Homo sapiens: one gene and its partners. The protein of the gene in region 2 purifies or fractionates together with the protein of the main gene of each other region. This does not show direct contact. Each region holds a gene or a part of one and is shown on either strand. Other genes may lie near its edges.

Region 1 (7,284 bases), on a different chromosome or scaffold from region 2:
AGGCATGCACAGGAATGGAAAGAATGGAGGAAAGAGGAAGAACAAAGACAGACAACCGAGTTGTGGAGGTGAGGGGTAAAAACCACCACAGAATCACTACCCGTTTGTCTTGACCGTGAGATCATTACTGTGCAAACCCTTAAACTAAAGTAACAGCTGTCAAAATACAGACAATAAATTTGGCTTGGCGCGGTGGCTCACACCTGTAATCCCAGCACTTTGGGAGGCCAAGGCAGGCAGATCACATTAGGTCAGGAGTTCGAGACCAGCCTGGCCAACATGGTAAAACCCCTTTTTTACCAAAAATACAAAAAAATAAGCCAGGCATGGTGGTCGCCTGTAATCCCAGCTACTAGGGAGGCTGAAGCAAGAGAATCACTTGAATTCGGGAGGCGGAGGTTGCAGTGAGCCGAGATCGCATCACTACACTCTAGCCTGGGTGACAGAGAGGGACTCCATCTCAAAAAATTAAATAAATAAACTTAATGAAGCTCAGGTTATAGATCCAGGAAAAATAACACGGATGAAAAACAAAAAAAAAACACATGGACATTATATTATCTGTCTGGCATCCAAGGGAGTATGTGTCTAGAGACATCAGTGACCCCTTTCCAAACACAAGATGATACCAGTTTATTTACCAGACTCTCCTGTGATTTCCAAGATTAAAAAATGGCAAAGAAGATGGGGTCTGGTATCAGGTTAATGAAGAAAGACTAAGAAGATAAGAAAGCAAAAAAGGTCCCAGCACAGTGGCTCACACCTGTAATCCCAGCACTTTGGGAGGCCGAGGCAGGTGGATCACCTGAGGTCAGGAGTTCAAGACCAGCCTGGCCAACACGGTAAAACCCTGTCTCTACTAAAAATACAAAAATTAGCCGGGCGTGGTAGTAGGCGTCGTCTGTAATCCCAGATACTCAGGAGGCTGAGGCAGGAAAATTGCTTGAACCCAGGAGGCAGAGGTTGCAGTGAGCTGAGATTGCGCCCCAGCCCTCCATCCTGGGCAACAAGAGCAAAACTCCATCTCAAAAAAAAAAAAAAAAGCAAAAAGAGAAATATTTTTCCTAACTACAAACTGACTCTTGGGAAGTACCAGAGTATTTATATACATCTAATCACAAGTCTATATATGGCTTTCTTATATCCAGGTAATATCACATTTTAGAAAACCATGGACCACCCCACATGCAATTTGTCTCCAAGTATTACAGGAGTAAAGACACAGATAGCTATGTCCAAGGCTTTAAGCTCAAGAGACTCAAGCTATGCCATAAAAATTAGTAATTTCACTCAACAGTCTATCAAGGACCTATCTCCATTATGGGTTCTGATTTCTACCCTTTAAGAACACAGCATAGACCTGACCAATGTCTATCAGTAAGACACACTTGCTTAGGGTTCCTGTGCTGTTTCCCTTCCCAAAGGCCAGAGCCATGCCTGTCCCTTTGGGTTGGGGTCCACCCATGATGATGACACACAGATTCTTCCTTCCTCTGTATTTCCCTCTGCATTAAGTTCTATCCATGTGGAGGACAGAACAAAATCAGCCTCACTCACAAAACATCAGAAAACGTTCTACTGGAATACGAACAAAGGGATCAATAAAAATAAAATCTGAGGCCAGGTGCGGTGGCTCATGCCTGTAATACCAGCACTTTGGGAGGCCGAGGAGGGCACATCACCTGAGGTAAGGAGTTCGAGACCAGCCTGACCAACATGGTGAAACCCCGTCTCTACTAAAAATACAAAAATCAGCTGGGTATAGTGGCACACGCCTATAATCCCAGCTACTCAGGAGGCTGAGATAGGAAAATCGCTTGAACCCAAGAGGTGGAAGTTTCAGTGAGTCGAGATCGCGCCACTGCACTCCAGCCTGGAAGACAGGGCGTGACTCCATCTCAAAAAAAAGAAAAAAAAAGAAAATCTGGTGACCAGAAAATCAAGCTCATCTCTCAGGCTAAGGGGCCTAAACGAGGAAAAGCTAAAGGTGTCTTCCAGAACTAGTGAGGTGTCTCACCTGGGCCCCCACAATAAAGGTACGAGTTTGAGAGTCCAAGGTCTTCACCAACACCTCCAAGCTGTCAGGCTCCTCCACAGCGGTACTGGTACTATCATTAGGCTCCATGGCCGACAGGTCTCTAAAGAAGAACGAAGGAAGGAAGGCCCGCTGTTGCCCAGACCAGAGTGTACCCGAAAGACTCCCTAGCATTAATCCCTGCCCCAATACCTAAAAAGTTTCTCCTGCACACACACACATTCACACCTGTCCCCATCCCCCTTCTGATTCCGGGGCACAGGGAGAGAAACACAAAGGGCAGGAGATCGACGGCTTAGGGAGCTGGAGGACGAGAGGTGGGAGGGGCTCCACGACGCCAATCACAATAAGCAGGGAGCCAGTCAGATTAGGAAGGAAGCACGAGACCAGAGACTAGTGTCATCACCGGTCACGGCAGGACAAGCGCCCCAGAGGTCGGAAAATCCTGGGACAACGCGAAAGCGGTGGTCGCCCCACACTCTGCGGAGAAAGTGGTTTCGCGCACGCGCGCCACGCCCATCGAACCCTCCTAACTCACTATAGACCCGAAACGGCACTCACGGGGCGACAGACCTGCTAGCTGACTGCCCGCGTCTACTGCCTTCCCACGGTGTTCCAGCAGAACGGCACAACTAACCCACAGCCAAACACACACACACACACACACACACACACACACACACACACCCACCACCCCGCGGCTCCGCCCCCGACTTCCCCACGGACCGTCACTTCCGGTCTCCCCCAAACCTGCCACCGACGGCCACTTCCGTTTCCCCGATAGTATTTGGGGATCTCGAAGCGATACTTCCGGCTCCCCCCAGGTCCCCAAGCTTTACTTTTGTGGGGCACGACGAGAAAGTCCGCAGCCCCAAACAGTGAGTTTCTGAGGGCGAGTCGGGCCGGGGCCGGCCTAGGTGGGAGGGAGCCGAGCACCCCGAGGAGCCGCCACCGCTGTCGCCCGGGGGACCGTACTACGCCTGCGTGCGTCGCACTACGGATGCGTGGACACTTAAGCATCGCCCCACCCCCTCCCCCCTCTGGCGGCGTTCACGTCTGTGCGCGCGCTTGAGCGCTAGAAGATTGAGGTGGCTACCGTAAATGCCTGAAAAACAGTCACCAGCTGGGACTCTACCACTGCCTCGAGAGGGGCTATGGACGGTCGTATGGACCTTGGACTTTGGAGATGGGGGATTATGCCACATTCATCTATGTTTAAATCTTGGCAGGCTGATAATTTCAGGCGGCACTGTCCTAGCCAGCTAAAACTCTTCTCCACCCTATTGCCCTCGCTGCGCCCTTTCTTCTGTGCCTCCGGAAGTTACTCTTTCAGTAGGCGTTTGGGGGCGGCACTGGTCAATTTTGTTCTCGGTTGCTTGGTTGGGCTAGATTTCGGTTCTGCCGGGTGGGCGTTTTAAGGGCTGTGGGCGTCACATTCGTCGGTGTGTGGCCAAGGGGACATGACACGTTTTAGGAAAAGTAAACGTGCTACTAAGTTGCACGACTTGTCAAGAAAAGAGGCGCTTCCGAGTTTGAGAATTGGGAGCAAATGGAGTCCGAGTGGACAGAAAGACAAGACCCTGACCGTGGGGAATTTAAAGGCCGGCCAGCGTGCTTCCGAAGGCCGGGGGTGGAGGCATTACCGCCTCTCCGTGCCCTCTTCTCTTAACCTGCCCTGGGCCAAGGGCCTCGGCCCCGCGAAACTGCGAGTCCTCCAGAAAGACACATCGCTGTTGGGGTGTCCAACCTTTCTGGGATTCGTAGTTTATACCCAGGTCCTGGTTATATTTTAGTTAAGAGTTCTAATAAGCAGCTGTTTAATGAGCACTTGTGCCAGCCCATATACTACGGGTTTTGTGTATTATTTTAAAAAGCCTTTTAACGAGCTTTTAACATTTTTTAAGTGAGTACACTTAGACGAACATAAGTGTCAGAATTGACAAATCCAGGCCTACAGGACTCCAGATCGAGCACTTGTACTTTACTGCCCCAATAAAAAGCTGTTAACATTTTAGCTTATTTTTTTGAGAGAGGGTCTCGCTTTGTCGCCCAGGCTGGAGTGCAGTGGCGCAATCACAACTCACTGTAGCCTCTGCCTCCCGAGCCCAACCGATCTTCCCACCTCAGCCTCCCTAGTAGGGACCACAGATGCACACCACCACACCTGGCTAATTTTATTTTTATAGAGATGGGGTCTTGCTATGTTGCCCAGCCTGGTCTTGCAGACTTGGCCTCCCAAAGTGCTGGGATTATAGGTGTGAGCTACTGTGCCTAACCACATTTTAGCTTTTTATTACAAAAATTTTCGGCCGGGCGCAGTGACTCACACTTGGGAGGATGAGGCGGGTGGATCACGAGGTCAGGAGTTCAAGACCAGCCTGGCCAAAATGGTGAAACCCCATCTCTACTAAAAATACAAAAATTAGCCTGGCGTGGTGGCGGGCGCCTGTAATCCCAGCTACTTGGGAGGCTGAGGCAGAGAATTGCTTTGAACCCGGGAGGTGGAGATTGCAGTGAGCCAAGATCGCGCCACTGCACTCCAGCTTGGGCAACAGAACGAGACTCCCATCTCAAAAAAAAAAAAAAAAAAATTCAAACATTACACCAAAATAGAACAGTATTAATAAACTCTAATATACTGGTCACCCAAATTTTGTTTGTTTTTTAACTAAATCGCAAGCCTCAGCCCTCGGCAAATTTTTTGTGGCAGTCCATGGGATATAAATTTATCAAGCTAGGTGTGGTGGCTCATGCCTGTAATCCCAACACTTTAGGAGGCTAAGGTGGGCCGACTGCTTGAGCTCAGGAGTTTAATACCAGCCTGGGGCAACATGGTGAAACTCCGTGTCTACAAAAAATTAGCTAGGCGTGATGGCGTGCACCTATACCTCCTACTCGGGAATCATCTGAGCCGGGGAAGTCAAAGTCATGCCTGGGCGACAGAGTGAGACCCTGTCTTAAAAATAAATAAGTAAATAAATAATCTATCGAGGAAGATCCATCTCTCACAGCATTAACTGCTCCAGTCACTTGGTGCTATCCAAGGACAACCTATTTGGCAATTCTTACTGCCTATTATTTGAGAACTTATTACCCACCAGAAACTAAGTGCTTTGCAAACATTACTATTAATTATAGCAAATATATACTTTGGACTTACCATGTGCAAGTCTTTGCTAAGGGCTTTATGTGCATTATTTCATTTAATCCTATAAGATTGATGATTTGCCAATTTTACAGATGAAAAAACAGACATAGCAGTTAGGGGTTGGTGGTGTTTTGTTTGTTTGGAGACAGAGTCTCTGTCGCCCAAGCTGGAGTGCAGTGGCACAATCAGGGCTCATTGCAGCCTCGACATCCCAGGCTCAAGCAATCCTCCCTCCTCAGCCTCCCTAGTAGCTGGGACTACAGGCGTGTGCCACCACATCGGCTAATTTTTGTATTTTTTGTAGAGACAGAGTTTTGCCATGTAGCCCAGGCTGGTTTTGAACTCCTGGGCTCAAGCCATCCGCCCACCTTGGCCTCTCAAAGTGCTGAGATTACAGGCATGAGCTACCTGCCCTGCCTGTAGTTAGGGTTTGGACACATTCTGCCTGACACCAACATCTATCCTCTCTAACAGCCAGATTACATAGCCTCTTTGTAGTAATAAATGTTGAGTGAATGTGTCAGTGAACACTGCCAGGGTATACATATTTTTCTAATTGTAAACTAAAGAGAGCAATCCACCGTGCCCCAGCACCTGCATCATACCTGTTCTAAAGCATTTACCAAGTTGTATTGCAATGGTTTGTCTACACAGCTAGTTTTCCCTCTAACGACTTCTTCAAGATCAGGGGCTATGTCTTATTCGTTTTTTTATGTCCCCGGGGATTAGCTAGTTCTTGGGAAACAACTGGGACTTGGGATTCAAAACAGTTTGCTAAGTGAATGAATGAGAGGCCCAGTCAAGCTACTTCCCTTCAGTGCTGCACAGTGCAACAAATAACCAGCTCAGATACAGGTTCAAAGACCACAGGCTTCTCCCTGGACAGCTCAGCTCTCCTCATAACTCCTGAGAAACCCTGGACATGCCAGGGTGTACTATGGAGTGGTTGCATCCGGAAGAGGGGGAGGAAGTCCCAAACACTAAGTAATCCAGGTTTGGGTTGGAAAACAAGGTTGAAGTTACTCATTAGCAGGTGAAAGGGTCAAGGGTCGAACGCAAGGGAGCTGAAAGCAGAGTGGACTGAGCAGCCAGTAGGGGAGAGAGCAGTTAAGGCACACAGAGCACCAGCTCCCTCCTGCCTGAAGATGTTCCACCAAATTTGGGCAGCTCTGCTCTACTTCTATGGTATTATCCTTAACTCCATCTACCAGTGCCCTGAGCACAGTCAACTGACAACTCTGGGCGTGGATGGGAAGGAGGTATGGACTGAGATTGGGGGAAGCCTATGGTGGAGGCTCTGAGGGACTTGGGTGGATGGCCTAGGATGACTGGAGACCATCTTGGGAAAGGAAGAGAGGAAGGGGGTGTGAGTGTTGTGATAATGAAAGCAAGAAGAAAAATATCAGTACTGTGGCCATCAATGCAGAGGCATGGCAGAATTGGGGGGTGGGGTGGTTACCCAGGTTGACTGGGGAGGGGCAAAGAGGAAAAGTCATTTAATGACTCTTTGTCATGGATCCAATCCCCAGTTGGAAAGAGGAAGGCAGCCAACACCTCTACCCCTAAATCTTGCTGTTTTGACTGATGAAGAGGTTGAACCCATCCTGTGCTGGAACCCACCCTCTTTTGCTCCCTTCATTGTCTCTCCAGTTCCCAGAGGTCCACTTGGGCCAGTGGTACTTTATCGCAGGGGCAGCTCCCACCAAGGAGGAGTTGGCAACTTTTGACCCTGTGGACAACATTGTCTTCAATATGGCTGCTGGCTCTGCCCCGATGCAGCTCCACCTTCGTGCTACCATCCGCATGTGAGTGGTAAGGAGGCAGAAGCATCACTGGGTTCAGTCTCTGCCCAAAGTGTGAGAATCCACCCACCAAGAGCTGGCCTCTTAGCTGGTATATCTACTATGCTTGGCCCACGGAATTCAGTGGCTGTATTAATTGCCCTCTGGAGAAAGATGTGCCTAACCAATGCTTGGTAGCTTGAAACCCAAGGAGAGCTGGGCTTCAATAACAAATACAATGGAGTAAATAGAAGCCGGGACAGGCCAGACGTGGTGGCTCACGCCTGTAATCCCAGCACTTTGGGAGGCTGAGGCGGACA
Region 2 (6,895 bases):
AGTAGAGATGAGGTTTCACCGTGTTAGCCAAGATGGTCTCAGTCTCTTGACCTTGTGATCTGCCCGCCTCAGCCTCCCAAAGTGCTGAGATTACAGATGTGAGCCACCGTGCCCGGCCTTTATTATTTTTTTGAGACAGAGTGTTGCTCTGTCGCCCAGGCTGGAGTGCAGTGGCGCGATCTCAGCTCACTGCAAGCTCCGCCTCCGGGGTTCACGCCACTCTCCTGCCTCAGCCTCCTGAGCAGCTGGGACTAAAGGCGCCTGCCACCATGCCCAGCTATTTTTTGTATTTTTAGTAGAGATGGGCTTTCACCGTGTTAGCCAGGAGGGTCTTGATCTCCTGACCTTGTGATCCACCCGCCTCGGTCTCCCACAGTGCTGGGATGACAGGAGTGAGCCACTGCGCCCAGCCAATTTTTTTTTTTTTTGAGACGTGAGAAAACCTCGTCTCTACTAAAAATACAAAAATTAGCCGGGCATGGTGGTAGGCACCTGTAATCCCAGCAACTCCGGAGGCTGAGGCAGGAGAATCTCTGCTTCCTGGGTTCTAGCGATTCTCCTACCTTAGCCTTCTGAGTAGCTGGTATTACAGGCACCTGCCACCATGCCCAGCTAATTGGTTTATATTTTTAGTAGTGATGGGGTTTCACCATGTTGGCCAGGCTGGTCTCAAACTCTTGACCTCAAGTGATCCGCCCACCTTGGCTTCTCAAAGTGCTAGGATTACAGGAATGAGCCACCATGCCCAGCCCTCACACAGCTTTAAATGCCACCCTTGAGACAGTGACTTCCAAATCAATGCCAACCTCCTCTGGGCTCCAGACTCACATAAACAAGCTACTGTCATGATGTTTACACTTGGATTTCCAGTGGGCAACTCAGATTCACTGTGGACAAAATGAAATTCTTTATTTGTTCATTCTAAACCTACTCCTTTCCTAGTTTTCCCCATCCCAGCTGCTCAGAGAGACAAGAAAGACATGTAATCAATTCATTTCTTTTTCTCACCCAAGTAATCTTACTGGTTTACTTCCAAAATACATCCCTGGTGCGATGTGGTGGCTCATGCCTGTAATCCCAGCACTGTGGGAGGCCGAGGCAGTCAGATCACTTGAGGTCAGGAGTTTGAGACCAGCCTGGCCAATATGGTGAAAACCTGTCTCCTAAAAAAAACAAAATTAACAGGCAGTGGTGGCGCAAGCCTGTAGTGCCAGCTACTCGGGAGGCTGAGGCAGGAGCATTGCTTGAACCTGGGAGGCGGAGGTTGCAGTCAGCCTAGATCGGGTTACTGCACTCCAGCCTGGGAGACAGAGGAGTCTTGAGTGTCTAAAAAAAAAAAAAACCTCAAGTCTGACTACTTCTCCCCCAACATTCTGCCTCCACCAGAGTCCAGGATGTTGTCATCTCTCAACTGGTTACACCCCCAATCTCCTTGTTAGTTTCCCTGCTTCTACCCTGACTGACAATTAAATCTCCACCTGGCCGTCAAAGGGTACTTTTCAAACATGAATTTGGCCACGACATTGCCCTGCTTAAAACAAACAGCTTCCCGTTAATAACCTGGAGTCAATGCCAAACTTCTTAGTGGCCCATAAGGTCCCACACCATGTGGCTCTGATTGGTCTCTCCAACTTCTCCTTCCCCTACCCTGGCTCACTAAGCTTCAGGCACTCTGGTGTGCTTCCTGCTCTGCAATTCCTCATTGGTTCCCTTGTGAGTATGTTGAGGAAGGAGTGAAACACGAGAGACACAGGATATAGAGTGGATAGGACACGGTGGCTGCTGGTGTGTGCGCACAAGAAAGGCTGGAAGAGGCTTTTCCCAGAAGTGGGGGCTAAGCCCTGTTCCACTCACCATAGCAAAGAGGTTGTCATAGCCTTTGACCTTGGTAGGCACCTTTGAGAACTTCTGGTCAAAAGCATCTGAGATGTTGTGTGCTGGGTCTGTGGAGATGATCAGAACACTCTCACGCCCCTTGGAGAGCTGGACTGCCAGGCTGCAGCTGAGTAATGGAAAAGTCAAAAGATAGGGGATGAGGGGATGGGCTCTGTTCCCTGGGTCTGCAAGGGGAGTGGTAGGTTCCCTGGAGCAGGTGACCCGAATCAGCAGGGGCCTTGAGAGGAGAGTATGGGTTATGGTGGGATTGAGCCTCAGTCCCTACAAAGGAACCCTCTCTGATTTATCTCCTGACCCCTCTATGTGGACTAGAGAGGTAAGGTTCAGCTGACTGAGTCTGTCTGGCCTAGTGCCTGCTTCTTTTTTGCTGGGCACAGTGGCATGGCCCAGCGGTCCAGCCAGCATAGCTTGACTCCGTGCCCCCTTCCTTAATAAGCTAAGGGGTCTCCTGCATTCCCTAGTAAGCACAGGATGGTTCAGTCTGCTTGTCCAGGATAATCTGTCCAACGGACACCTCCTGCCTGTAGCTGCCTGGGACAGTCTCATCACGTGCTCTCTCCCTCGCTTTCCACCCTCACTCTCGCCTTGGGCATAAAACACCAAGGTTCACCAAACTAGGATTGCTTGTTCTGGTGCCGCCCTCACCCACAACTCTGGATTCACTCAGGTACGGTCCAGCTGATGGGGATATCTAAGTGCTTCCCCGTCCCCCGGGCGCTGAGTTCACTGTGGTTCGGCACTTGAGCCCCAACACGGATGGTCCAACTCAGAGGGTGCTAGGGCTGCATTGAGGTCTTTCTCATTTGCTCCAGGTAACTTCCAGAGAGTGAAACCCAAAGACCCCCGCCAGCCCCCATGCCCCGGTCGTGGTGGAAAAGCCGGTCCTTGGCCTCCCCTTCGCCCAGTGGTATATCCTACACGCCTCCTGGCCCCCGCCGCAGCCTCCTTACCTGCAGGTGGTCTTGCCCACACCACCCTTGCCCCCGACGAAGATCCACTTCAGGCTGCGCTGCTCGATGATGTTGCTAAGTGTAGGCTCCAGCGGCTCCACATCAGGAGCATCTTCGAACTCCTCTGCCTCAACCCCCCACCCGGCCACCCCTGCCGCCATTTTGGAACTGGCTCACGTGATCCAGCGGAGCGCACCATACGAAGAACCTACAGGGGAAATTCTCTATCACATTCCTAGCGAAGCTAGGAGCATGAGTTAATTTCCTCATTACTTGCCTTTTAGGAGAAATATAAATTATATTTTCACTATTCTTTGCTTCCAGGGTTCACTTTGTCAACCTCTGGTCTATAATTTTCCAAGGGTTCCCCCTACCTAATGAACACATCGGTACGGTCTAGGCTACTCCCTTTCACTGATTGGGCCCTAGGTCTTGCAGCTCTCCTTTCATTGGCTATGTCTTTTCTTACTTACACCAATCACTCTTATGTTCCGGTAGCGCCAACCTCACCTTAGCAACCAGCCAAACACCCAGTCCATGCCCTTTCGGTGAAGTTAGATTCCCGGTCCTCCTTGGCCTGACTCCATAGGCTCAACTTTATGTCCATCATTTTCCCTCTATTCTTCACGGTAGGTCCCAACCTCACCTCAGGTCCGCCCCCTCTGTTATTCAATAGGCTGTGAGCCTCTTGGCTCTTGCCGCAAACCAATCATAGACGAATTGACTCGGTTGGCGATAGGTCCCCGGGCTGATAGTGGCTTAGAGTGGGCGAGTCCACAGAGTCTTGTCCTGTACGCCCTGATCTCCCATGCCTAGCAGACACCATTCCTGCAATTGCGCTCCGTTTCGTAGAAGGAATTCCTAAAAGTCTCCTTGTATTTCAAGAGAAGACTCCAGTATACCATATTTCATGTTTGAACCTCTGTCTTAGAGCAGGAACAGAAGCTGGGTTCCAGGCCCTTGATGGAGACCCCAGCCCATGACACTCTTAACTTTAGAGGGAGACTACAGACTAGAAATAACCCCGACTTCATCTGAATACTACAGCTCATAAAATAAGCTGATTCTCGGGCCGGGCGCGGTGGCTCACGCCTGTAATCCTACCACTTTGGGAGGTTGAGGCGGGTGGATCACCTGAGGTCAAGAGTTCGGGACCAGCCTGGCCAAGATGGTGAAAACCTGTCTCTACTAAAAATACAAAAATTAGCCGGGCGTGGTGGCACGCGCCTGTAATCCCAGCTACTTAGGAGGCTGAAGCAGGAGAATCGCTTGAACCCGGAGGGCAGAGGTTGCAGCGAGCCGAGATTGCGCCACTTCACTCCACTCCAGCCTGGGTGAAAGAGTGAAACTCCGTCTCTAAATAAATAAATAAAATAGGCTGGGCGCGTTGGCTCACGCCTGTAATCCCAGCACTTTGGGAGGCCGAGGCAGGCAGATCACGAGGTCAGGAATCGAGACCAGGTTGAGGCAGAAGAATCGCTTGAACTCGGGAGGCGGAGGTTGCAGTGAGCCGAGATCACGCCACTGCACTCCAGCCTGGGCGACAGAGAGAGACTCCGTCTCAAAAAATAAAATAAAACAAAATAAAATAAAGTAATAATAACAATAATAAAATAAAAAAGTAAGCTGATTCTCAGACGGGGACTTCAGCTCCACAGAGCCAGCTATGTCCCCAACAAATGTGAGCTTTATCCCAGAGATGGTTACCCAACCCAAAGATACCCCTATTTCTACTTGGGGGGCCCAGACTAGACATGCTCTCTATTCCCCAGTTAGGGATTCAAGTTCCCAGGTGTCAGCTGAGCACACAGCCCCAGATGAGGTCCTTCCACTCATAGAGATTATTCTTGGTGTCGTCAGACGGGGATTCTAGCCCTGGAAAGCGAATCTGTTCCTAGCCCCAAGTGAAACCAACTCCAGAGAGCAAGCTACAGCCCCAGTCTCAGACGACAGTCTCATTCTCCGGGAGCCCCTGTATGGGGAACTCCAGCCTGAGTACTGCTGAATTTTGAAAACCCGAGAGGCAGGGCTCGGTGGCTCACGCCTGTAATCCCAGCACTTTGGGAGGCTGAGGTAAGAGGACTGCTGGAGCCTAGGAGTTTGAGAACAGCCTGGGCAACATGACAAAACCCCGTCTCCACAAATATAAATAAATAAATAAATGAATAAATAAAATTAGCCAGGCGTAGTGGCGCATGCCTGTGTTTCCAGCTACTCGGGAGGCTGTGGTGGGAGGATCGCCTCAGCCCTGAGAGGTCGAGGCTGAAGTGAGCCCTGATCATGCCTTTGCACTCCAGCCTCGGAGACGGAGTGTGACTCTGTCTCCAAAACAAGACAAAAAACCAAAAACCAAAACAGCAAGACTGGGCCCGATGGCTCACGCCTGTAATCCCAACACTTTGGGAGGGGAGGCCAAGGCAGGAGGATCGCTTGAGGCCAGGAGTTCGAGACCAGCCTGGGCAATATAGCCAGGCGCCCGTCTCTAATTTTTAAAAAACAAGGCCAGGCGCGGTGGCTCATGCCTGTAATCCCAGCAGTTTGGGAGGCCGAGGCGGGCGGATCACCTGAGGTCGGGAGATTACCAGCCTGACCAACATGGAGAAATCCCGTCTCTACTAAAAATACAAAATTAGCTGGGCGTGGTGGCGCATGTCTGTAATCCCAGCTACTCGGGAGGCTGAGGCAGGAGAATCGCTTGAACCTGGGAGGTGGAGGTTGTGGTGAGCCGAGATCGCGCCACTGCACTCCAGCCTGGGAAACAAGAGGGAAACTCCGTCTGAAAAAAAAAGAAAAAAAAAAAACGAAACAAAAAAACCCGCGAGACGGGGGCTCCTCCCCCTAGCCCCGCCCCTTCGGGTTGGTTCCCTCATTCGCCCCGCCCCCGCTGCGGGCGCTGGAGGGCCTGACCGCTCTTCCCGGCATGCATTGTTCGGGACGAGGCGAGTCGGGCGCCAAGCGCGGGGCCGGAGCGGCCTTCCCGGAGTCCTTTGCGCGGCACCTGGCGACAAAATGGCTGCCCGAGGGAGACGGGCGGAGCCTCAGGGCCGGGAGGCTCCGGGCCCCGCGGGCGGTGGCGGTGGCGGGAGCCGTTGGGCTGAGTCGGGATCGGGGACGTCGCCCGAGAGCGGGGACGAGGAGGTGTCGGGCGCGGGTTCGAGCCCGGTGTCGGGCGGCGTGAACTTGTTCGCCAACGACGGCAGCTTCCTGGAGCTGTTCAAGCGGAAGATGGAGGAGGAGCAGCGGCAGCGGCAGGAGGAGCCGCCCCCGGGTCCGCAGCGACCCGACCAGTCGGCCGCCGCCGCTGGCCCCGGGGATCCGAAGAGGAAGGGCGGTCCGGGCTCCACACTTAGCTTCGTAAGGAGCCGTGGGGGTGGGGGCGGGCGCCACGGCCTGTCTTGGCAGCGGGAGTCGGGGCCCGTGAAGGGGGATCGGGACCGAAGTCCACTTTCCGTTCTGAATGAGGGGCCCGTCCGGGTCACCCGCTGAGGGTGTGGAACTTGGATTCCCGACAACTGGGGTCTAGGGGCGGGAGTGGGGACTCCAGGAGCTTGCCCGTGGGAACTGGGAGCTGAGGAATTGCCTAGGAATCAGCACTGTGGAGAATGAGGAAACGTGGATATCAGGATTCCTGTTTGAGTGGTACCCGGACCTTGGGTCATGGGACCACCACTAATTGTGAGGAAAGGGAGTAAATTTAAGTCTGGACTCTGAGCTATATGTGTTAGACTCAGACCACGTACTATGTAAGGACAATTACTTATCTAGGACAATTGCTTGACTTCCTTGTATCTTATTCGACCAACCTCCATTTATTGAGCAATTTACCTCGTGCTAGGCATTGTGCTAGGTGCTGGTATGCAGTGGTGAGCTTACAGACAAGATCGCTGCTTTCCTGGAGCCTCTGGGTTTGCCTACCCTCATTTTCCCTAGTTGCAAAAATAGACATCATAGCATCTCTTGATGTGGTGAGGGTTTTATGAGGTGATCCTGGAAAAGTGGTTAGCACAGAGCCTGTCTTCCAGGAAGGGCTAAACTGGTGGTTCTCAATT
Region 3 (7,550 bases), on a different chromosome or scaffold from region 2:
GATTGCGCCATTGCACTCCAGCCTGGGCAACAAGAGCAAGACTCTGTCTCAAAAAATAAATAAACAAAATAAAATAAATAATAAAAAAAAAAATAGGCTGGGCGCGGTGGCACAAGCCTGTAATCCCAGCACTTTGGGAGGCCAAGGCGGGCAGATCACAAGGTCAGGAGATCGAGACCATCCTGGCTAATTCGGTGAAACCTCGTCTCTACTAAAAATACAAAAAAATTAGCCGGTTGTGGTGGTGGTGGGCACCTGTAGTCCCAGCTACTCGGGAGGCTGAGGCAGGAGAATGGTGTGAACCCGGGAGGCGGAGCTTGCAGTGAGCCGAGACTGCGCTACTGCACTCCAGCCTGGGCAACGGAGCAAGACTCCATCTCAAAAAATAAAAATAAATAAAAAAATAAAAAGAATAAATAAATAAGAAAACAAAATACATGTTGAAGGATATGGAGCAACTGGAACCCTTCTGCACTGCTGGTGAGAATGTCGAATGGTGTGGCTGCTATGGAAAACAGTATGGTGGTTTTTCAAAAAAATTCAACATAGAATTACCATAGATTCAGGAATTCCACTGCTGGGTATATGTCCAGAAAAACTGAAAGCAGAGACTCAAAGAGATATTTGTAAACATTTTAGCATTATCTACAATAGTCAAAAGGTAGAAACAACCCAAGTGTCCATAGACAGATGAACTAATAAACAAAATGTGGCCTATACATACAATGGGATACTATTCAGCCTTAAAAGGGGAGGAAATCCTGACTCATGATACACCATGGATGAACCTTAAGGATATTATGCTGAGTGAAAAGAAGCCAGTCACAAAAGGAAAAATACTGTCTGATTCCACTTATATGAGGTCCCAAGAGTAGTCAAATTCACAGAGGCAGAAAGTACAATGGTGATTGCCAGGGAGAGGTAGGAATGGAAAGTTGTTGTTTAATGAGTGCGAGAGTTTCGGTTAGAGGAGATAAAAAAAGTTCTGGGATGGGGCCAGGCGTGGTGGCACACGCCTGTAATCCTAGCACTTTGGGAGGCCAAGGAGCACAGATCACTTGAGGTCAGGAGTTTGAGACCAACCTGGGCAACATAGTGAGACCCCGTCTCTATTAAAAATACAAAAATTAGCCGGGCATGGTGGCAGGTACTGGTAATCACAGCTACCTGGGAGGCTGAGGCAGGAGAATCGCTTGAACCTGGAAGGTGGAGGCTGCAGTGAGCCAAGATCAGGCCACTGCACTCCTACATAGGCAACAGAGTGAGACTCTGTCTCAAAAAAAAAAAAAAAGAAAATGTTCTGGGAGCGGGGCCACGTGCAGTGGTTCACACCTGTAATCCCAGCACTTTGGGAGGCCAGGATGGGTGGATGGCTTGAGGTCAGGAGTTTGAGACCAGCCTGGCCAACATGGCAAAGCTCTGTCTCTACTAAAAATACAAAAAAATACCTGGGCGTGGTGGTGCATGCCTGTGGTCCCAGCTACTTGGGAGGCTGAGGTGGGAGGATCACTTGAACCTGGGAGGCAGAGGTTGCAATGAGTCGAGATTACACCACTGCACAGAGCCAGACCCTGTCTTAAAATAATAATAATAAAGTTCTGGGATAATGGTTGCACAAAAATGTGAATGTACTTAATGCCACTGAACTGTACACCTAAAAATGATAAAGATGATAAACTTCATATTATGTGTATTTTACAATTAAAAACAAGAAGATGAGCATGGGCCAGCTCATCAGGAGTCTTTTATGCAATGCCTGAGACATCATCTTAAAGACTGGATAGCATCAGGAAAGATTCTGAAGGAGACTCAGGGGTTAAAAGAGAATTCCCTATATCTCAGGACAATGCAGACAGTAGGACAATTGAGAGAGTAAGAATAGAGTTTTGCACAAAACAGGCACTCAATGAATACTGGTGGAATAAAATATCCTCCACTACTACCAATTTATCTTAGGAGAGAAAAGCAAGAACTGTTTTCCAAGACAACGCTGAAACGAATGCGCCCAATCTTTGAGGACTCCGCCTTTGCCCAACAGCTCCTCATTTCTGCTGTGGGCATACGGAGGGCGCTCATTCTCGGGGACAGTTCCCAAGGTACCCCCGCCTTCCATGGCCACACCCCACCACGCCCTGTCCAATTTGCCACCAAATCCCTATCCCTGCTCCAAAAGGCAATCAAATCTCCACCTCCAGTCACTAGGTGGATGACTTAGTGCCACCACTAAATTCTCTTGAGCCAGACTCCTCCGGGAGGTAAAGGAGGGTGGGATGATAATACTCGCCTCTCCCAGCAGCCGTGAGACAGAGGTAATGTACTCACTACCTGGCAGAAAGAGAGTGTTCCCCAACCTGGTTGCTCCCTTGGATACTGAAGGCATCACGCTGTACTGAGATTCTCTCTACACCTGTCTCCCACCCTACCCACCCCAAGAATGTGGGCTCCTGGACGCGAGGATCCATCTCTCCGGGACCTGGAACAGCTGACTTCGCCCGCCAGGCCTCTGGGAAACCCTGGCCGAGGGCTGCTCGAATGCCTCTAGGAACCAGGATTAACGGAAACGAGGCTGACAGCGGGGCACTAGGAACTCCCAGTGTGAGGTTCGCCGCCGCCACCCACAGCCAGAAGAGTCCAGGGTTGCCCGGTGTTTCTCCCAACCCCCTAGAACCCAGAAAGTCTGATTTTGGGGTAAAGCGTCGTACCTTTTAGACGCTAACAACTATCTCAAAAAAGCTTACGGACCAACCAAGACGCTACTACGGCCTTCAGTCGCCCAGTTGAGACCCCTGTACCTACGCCAGACCCGCCGGGGGACTGGGGCGGCATCCCCACCGGCCCTTGGGAGGCCAGGCAGCCACTTACGAAGGATGAGAAGGACGGGAGGAGGATCCTAAGAACATTGCATCCAAACACGAAGCTGAGCACCAGCAACCACGCCCAGTGGTCGGCCGCGGCTGAGCTCATCCCGGACGCTCCTGGCTGTGCTGGGTCCGCTACGGCAGCTCCATGGGGACCACAACAACAGCGGCGACCGCGCCTGCGCGGTGAAGCCAAGCGCCCCAGAACAGGCGCGCCGACGCGCCTGCGAACTGCGTCGCCCTCGCGGGAGGCGGGGCCGTTTTTTCGTCCGGCTCCAGTTGGAGCGGTTAACACGTTCCGGGTTTCTCCTGGGCCTTCGGCGGTTCCGTAGCCTTCTAGCACCCATCCCTACTGAACCAGTTTTCTGACGTCCGTGTTTCTTTTTTTCCTTCTTTTTAAAATTAAAAACCTTCTCATAGTACCAAACTCTGGTTTCAAGTGCTAACGACTCCCTGCTTTTGTCATAATTAGTACTTTCTTTAAATTAACTTTTAATTCTAGATAAGTTTAAGAAAAACTCTTCCATAAATAGAAAACTACCGTTTTTATAGTAGCAGGTAACTGTCGTGTTCCAAGCAGTTACATGGAAAATGCCTTACGTTTTCGTTCCAGATCTAAACACTGTAGTAAGTCTAACCAATTTACACAACTGCATACCTGAAAAATAAGTTTAATAGAATGCACTGTTCACAATCATTAGTAATAGTTAATAAATTAACCTGAATCTAGGTGAAGATCAGGTTTTGCAGCGAAAGAATCCCAACTCAAATGTATGCAAAGTGAGCAGGGCGAGGTGGCTCACGCCTGTAATCCCAGCACTTTGAGAGGCCGAGGCGGGCAGGTCATGAGGTCAAGAGATTGAAACCAGCCTGGCCAACATGGTGAAACCCCGTCTCTACGATACAAAAATTAGCCGGGCGTGGTGGCGCGCGCCTGTAGTCCCAGCTACTCCGGAGGCTGAGGCAGGAGAATCGCTTGAACCCGGAAGACGGAGGTTGCAGTTAGCCAAGATCGCGCCACTGCACTCCAGCTCTGGCGACAGAGCGAGACTCCGTCTCAAAAAAAAAAAAAAGTATGCCTAGTGGATAAAGCAAGACATGTTCAACTGTCTCTTCTGCCATGCTGCCATGACTGGTTTCTGAGGACTAATTCCTAATCAAAATGATGCAAGATTGCGGGTACACTGGCTCACGCCTGTAATCCCAGCACTTTGGGAGATCCAAGCAAGGTGGATCACAGGCCCAGGAGTTTGAAACCAGTCTGGGTAACATAGTGAGATCCCCATCTCTACAATAAAATATAAAAATTAGCCGGGCACTGTGGCACGTGCCTGTGGCCTCAGCTACTAGGGAGGCTGAGATGAGAGGATCGCCTGAGCCTGGGAGGTCGAGGCTGCAGTGAGCTGTGATCACACCACTGGACTCCAGCCTGGGCGACAGAGCACAACTCTGGCTCATTATTATGAACCAGTTAAAATAATTATGCGGCTGGGCACAGTGGCTCAAGCCTGTAATCCCAGCACTCTGGGAAGCCGAGGCAGGTGGACCACCTAAGGTCAGGAGTTCGAGACCAGCCTGACCAACATGGCAAAACCCTGTCTCTATTAAAAATACAAAAATTAGCTGGGTGTGGTGGCGGGCACCTGTAGTCCCAGCTACTCAGGAGGCAGAAGAAGGAGAATCGCTTGAACCTGGGAGGCGGAGGTTGCAGTGAGTTGAGATCGCACCATTGCACTCCAGCCTGGGTGACAAGAGTGAAACTCTGTCAAGAAAGAAAGAAAGAGAGAAAGAGAAAGAGAAAAAGAAAGAAAGAAAGAAAGAAAGAGAGAGAGAGAGACAGAAAGAAAGAAAGAAAGAAAGAAAGAAAGAAAGAAAGAAAGAAAGAAAGAAAGAAAGAAAGAAAGAAAGGGAAAGGAAAGGAAAGAAAGAGAGAAAGAAAGAGAAAAAGAAAAAGAAAAGAAAAGAAAGAGGCTGTGGTTCTACAAATTTCTGTGTCAAGAAAACATGTGAAGCAAAACTATTCTGTAGTGGTAGAGTGAATTCCTTCCCTGAAAGGACTTATTGGTTAAGTGACTTCTGAACTGACCAAAACAAAGAGCAGGAGTCTGGCTCTCCTCCATAGCCTTCCCTTCCACCTGGATGGACCACGCAGCACGGCAGCCAGGCTCCTGGCTCCTCTCTCACTGGAGATTGAGATGGATTTAGAAGGAGAAACTGCCTCTTGAAAAGTGATGACAGGCCAAGCATGGTGGCTCATGCCTGTAATCCCAGTATTTTGGGAGGCCGAGGTGGGTAGATCACCTGAGGTCAGGAGTTCGAGACCAGCCTGATCAACATGGTGAAAACCCATCTCTCCTAAAAATACAAAAATTAGTCGGGCGTGGTGGCGCATGGCACACGCCTGTAATCCCAGCTACTCAAGAGGCTGAGGCAGTAGAATCACTTGAACCCAGGAGGCGGAGATTGCAGTGAGCCCAGATCACACTGTTGCACTCCAGCCTGAGCAACAGAGAGACTCAATCTCAAAAAACAAGAAAAAAAAAAGGAAAAGTGATGACAGCCCCGACCCCACTGGACCCCTTTCACCCGCCCCCAGTCTCTGCCTCTGGCTAAAGAGAAGTCCACTACCACACCCCACTGCCACCTATCTTCAGGAAAAGGATTACCTAATTCCTGGACAGTCGAGAACTCCTAACAAAAAAAAAACCCTGGAGCATGTCCTCAACTTTGCAGCAGCGGTGGGAGAGAAGCAGCAGCACCCGGGCTTCACAGGCAACCCAGTCTGAAGAACTCAACCCTCTCCTGTTGCTTCCTGTGAGCAGCACTTCACAAAAGCACCAACAATGGAAGGCGGAGACCCTCTTCCAACACATGGAAAGCAATGTGAGAGCCAGGGTGTTTCAGCATGAGTCAATCTACATCTAGCACAGGTTAAGATAGTAAACAAAGCTCATAACAAGAACAAGACTGTTCATTTCTTAATGCTGCTGTAACATATTACCATGAACTCAGTGGCTTAACTTTATTATCTCACAGTTCCAGGAGAAAGATACCTGAAATGAGTCTTATTGGGCTAAAAATAAAAGCAAAGCTGAGTTCCTTCTGGTGGTTCACGGGAGAATCCATTTCTTTGCTTTTTCCAGCTTCTAGAGGCTGCCTGCGTTCCTGGTCTTGCATCCCTCTTCCTTGTCAAATCCAGCAGGCACAGTTCTCTGACTCCTGCTTCCATTGTTACATCTTCCCTGGCTCTCCTGCTTCCCTCTTTCACTCTAGAAGAATCTTTGTGATTATACTGGATCCATGTGGCTAAACCAAAATAATCTCTCCATTTAAAATTGTTAACTTAATTACATCTGCAAAGTCCATTTGCCACAAAAAGTAACATATTCACATGTGCTGGGGATTAGGTTGTGGACATGGTGGGGGGACAGTATTCTGCCTACTGTAAATACCATAATCATTCGTGAAAATGAACCAAGATGGCAGCAAGAGAAACTCCACAGAGAAGAAGCCTATTACTGGTTTATTAATGAACATGGTGTTGGTTGCCAGAGGAAAACCATAAGCTTCCAAGCACTACTGGAGAAATAACATCAGTTGCTTCCAATCAATCACTGTTCGATGGATCCAGGCACATGCCCCACCTCAGCCTGACCTGAGAATAGGGTAATTGGGACATATGTCAGAGGCTCAGGAGTCCCTAAAAAAATTTCAAATAGAGAATCTTTTTAAAATGTCTGAACACCTTTTATTGCACATAAAATGCACCTTAAAGTGGACAAGATGGGAACCAAACATTGAAATCTGTGAGTTGAATAAATCCAGTGAAGAGTGTTGGCTTCAGCCAGAAATCAATATAAATCATGAAAATAAGTGGATTTTAAATTCCTGGTCAAAGGCTGGGCACGGTAGCTCATGCCTGTAATCCCAATAGTTTGAGAGGGTTTTGAACCCAGGAGTTCAAAACCACACTGAGCAACATAGCAAGACTTCGTCTCTACAATCAATTAATTCCTGGTCAATGTGATATGGGTATTCAACTCTTAAACCCCAACAGAAATGATGACCTAAAAACAGGTGCTGGCTGGGGGCGATGGCTCACGCCTATAATCCCAGCACTTTGGGAGGCCGAGGTGGGTGGATCACCTGAGGCTGGGAGCTTGAGAGCAGCCTGGCCAACATGGTGAAACCCCATCTCTACTAAAAATACAAAAAATAGCTGGGCATGTTGGCACACACCTGTAATCCCAGCTACTTGGGAAGCTGAGGCAGGAGAATCACTTGAACCCAGGAGGCGGAGGTTGCAGTGAGCCGAGATGGCACCATTGCACTCCAGCCTGGTGACAGAGTGCAACTCAGTCTCAAAAAAAAAAAAAAAAAAAAAAAAAGAATGTTTACTTACAATATAGGAAAGATTAGAAATGAAATTTGGAATCAATAGGCAAGTTCTAGACCTATTGCTCTGCATGCTAATTTACTTAGTGGTTATGCAAGCCAATCAGATAGTAGTGAATTCAGGCAAAAGAAGGAAAACCATTTGGAGAAGCACATATTTGGGGAAAATAGTGCTAGAATCATTATTACAATGAGAAACACAGTTCAGAGACTAGAGCCAACAAGGTTACATTATACCTTAAATAATCAAAGTTGTTGGCCAGGCATGATGGCTCATGCCTGTGATCCTAGCACTTT

What was found. The genes of interacting proteins can lie anywhere in the genome.
Region 1: the proteins of GET3 (region 2) and BAG6 purify together in Homo sapiens (co-immunoprecipitation; 5 studies listed by BioGRID and IntAct, with this or other methods). This does not show direct contact.
Region 3: the proteins of GET3 (region 2) and GET1 purify together in Homo sapiens (co-immunoprecipitation; 3 studies listed by BioGRID and IntAct, with this or other methods). This does not show direct contact.

What each region holds. Positions count from the first base shown.
Region 1 is NC_000006.12:31,649,639-31,656,922, forward strand, and holds the start of BAG6 (large proline-rich protein BAG6), read right to left. Parts: upstream 3,024-7,284; 5' UTR 2,786-3,023; exon of another isoform or gene 2,762-2,785; intron 2,753-2,761; exon of another isoform or gene 2,597-2,752; intron 2,534-2,596; exon of another isoform or gene 2,228-2,533; intron 2,139-2,227; 5' UTR 2,126-2,138; coding exon 2,018-2,125; intron 1-2,017. Other genes in the region: APOM (apolipoprotein M), read left to right, coding at 6,329-6,442, 6,834-6,988. UniProt on the Homo sapiens protein: ATP-independent molecular chaperone preventing the aggregation of misfolded and hydrophobic patches-containing proteins.
Region 2 is NC_000019.10:12,733,618-12,740,512, reverse strand, and holds the start of GET3 (ATPase GET3), read right to left. Parts: upstream 3,017-6,895; 5' UTR 3,008-3,016; coding exon 2,847-3,007; intron 2,003-2,846; coding exon 1,855-2,002; intron 1-1,854. Other genes in the region: TRIR (telomerase RNA component interacting RNase), read left to right, coding at 5,856-6,200.
Region 3 is NC_000021.9:39,375,799-39,383,348, reverse strand, and holds the start of GET1 (guided entry of tail-anchored proteins factor 1), read right to left. Parts: upstream 3,024-7,550; 5' UTR 2,965-3,023; coding exon 2,863-2,964; exon of another isoform or gene 2,827-2,862; coding exon of another isoform or gene 2,797-2,826; exon of another isoform or gene 2,428-2,796; intron 1-2,427. Other genes in the region: GET1-SH3BGR (WRB-SH3BGR readthrough), read right to left, coding at 2,863-2,964. UniProt on the Homo sapiens protein: Required for the post-translational delivery of tail-anchored (TA) proteins to the endoplasmic reticulum (ER).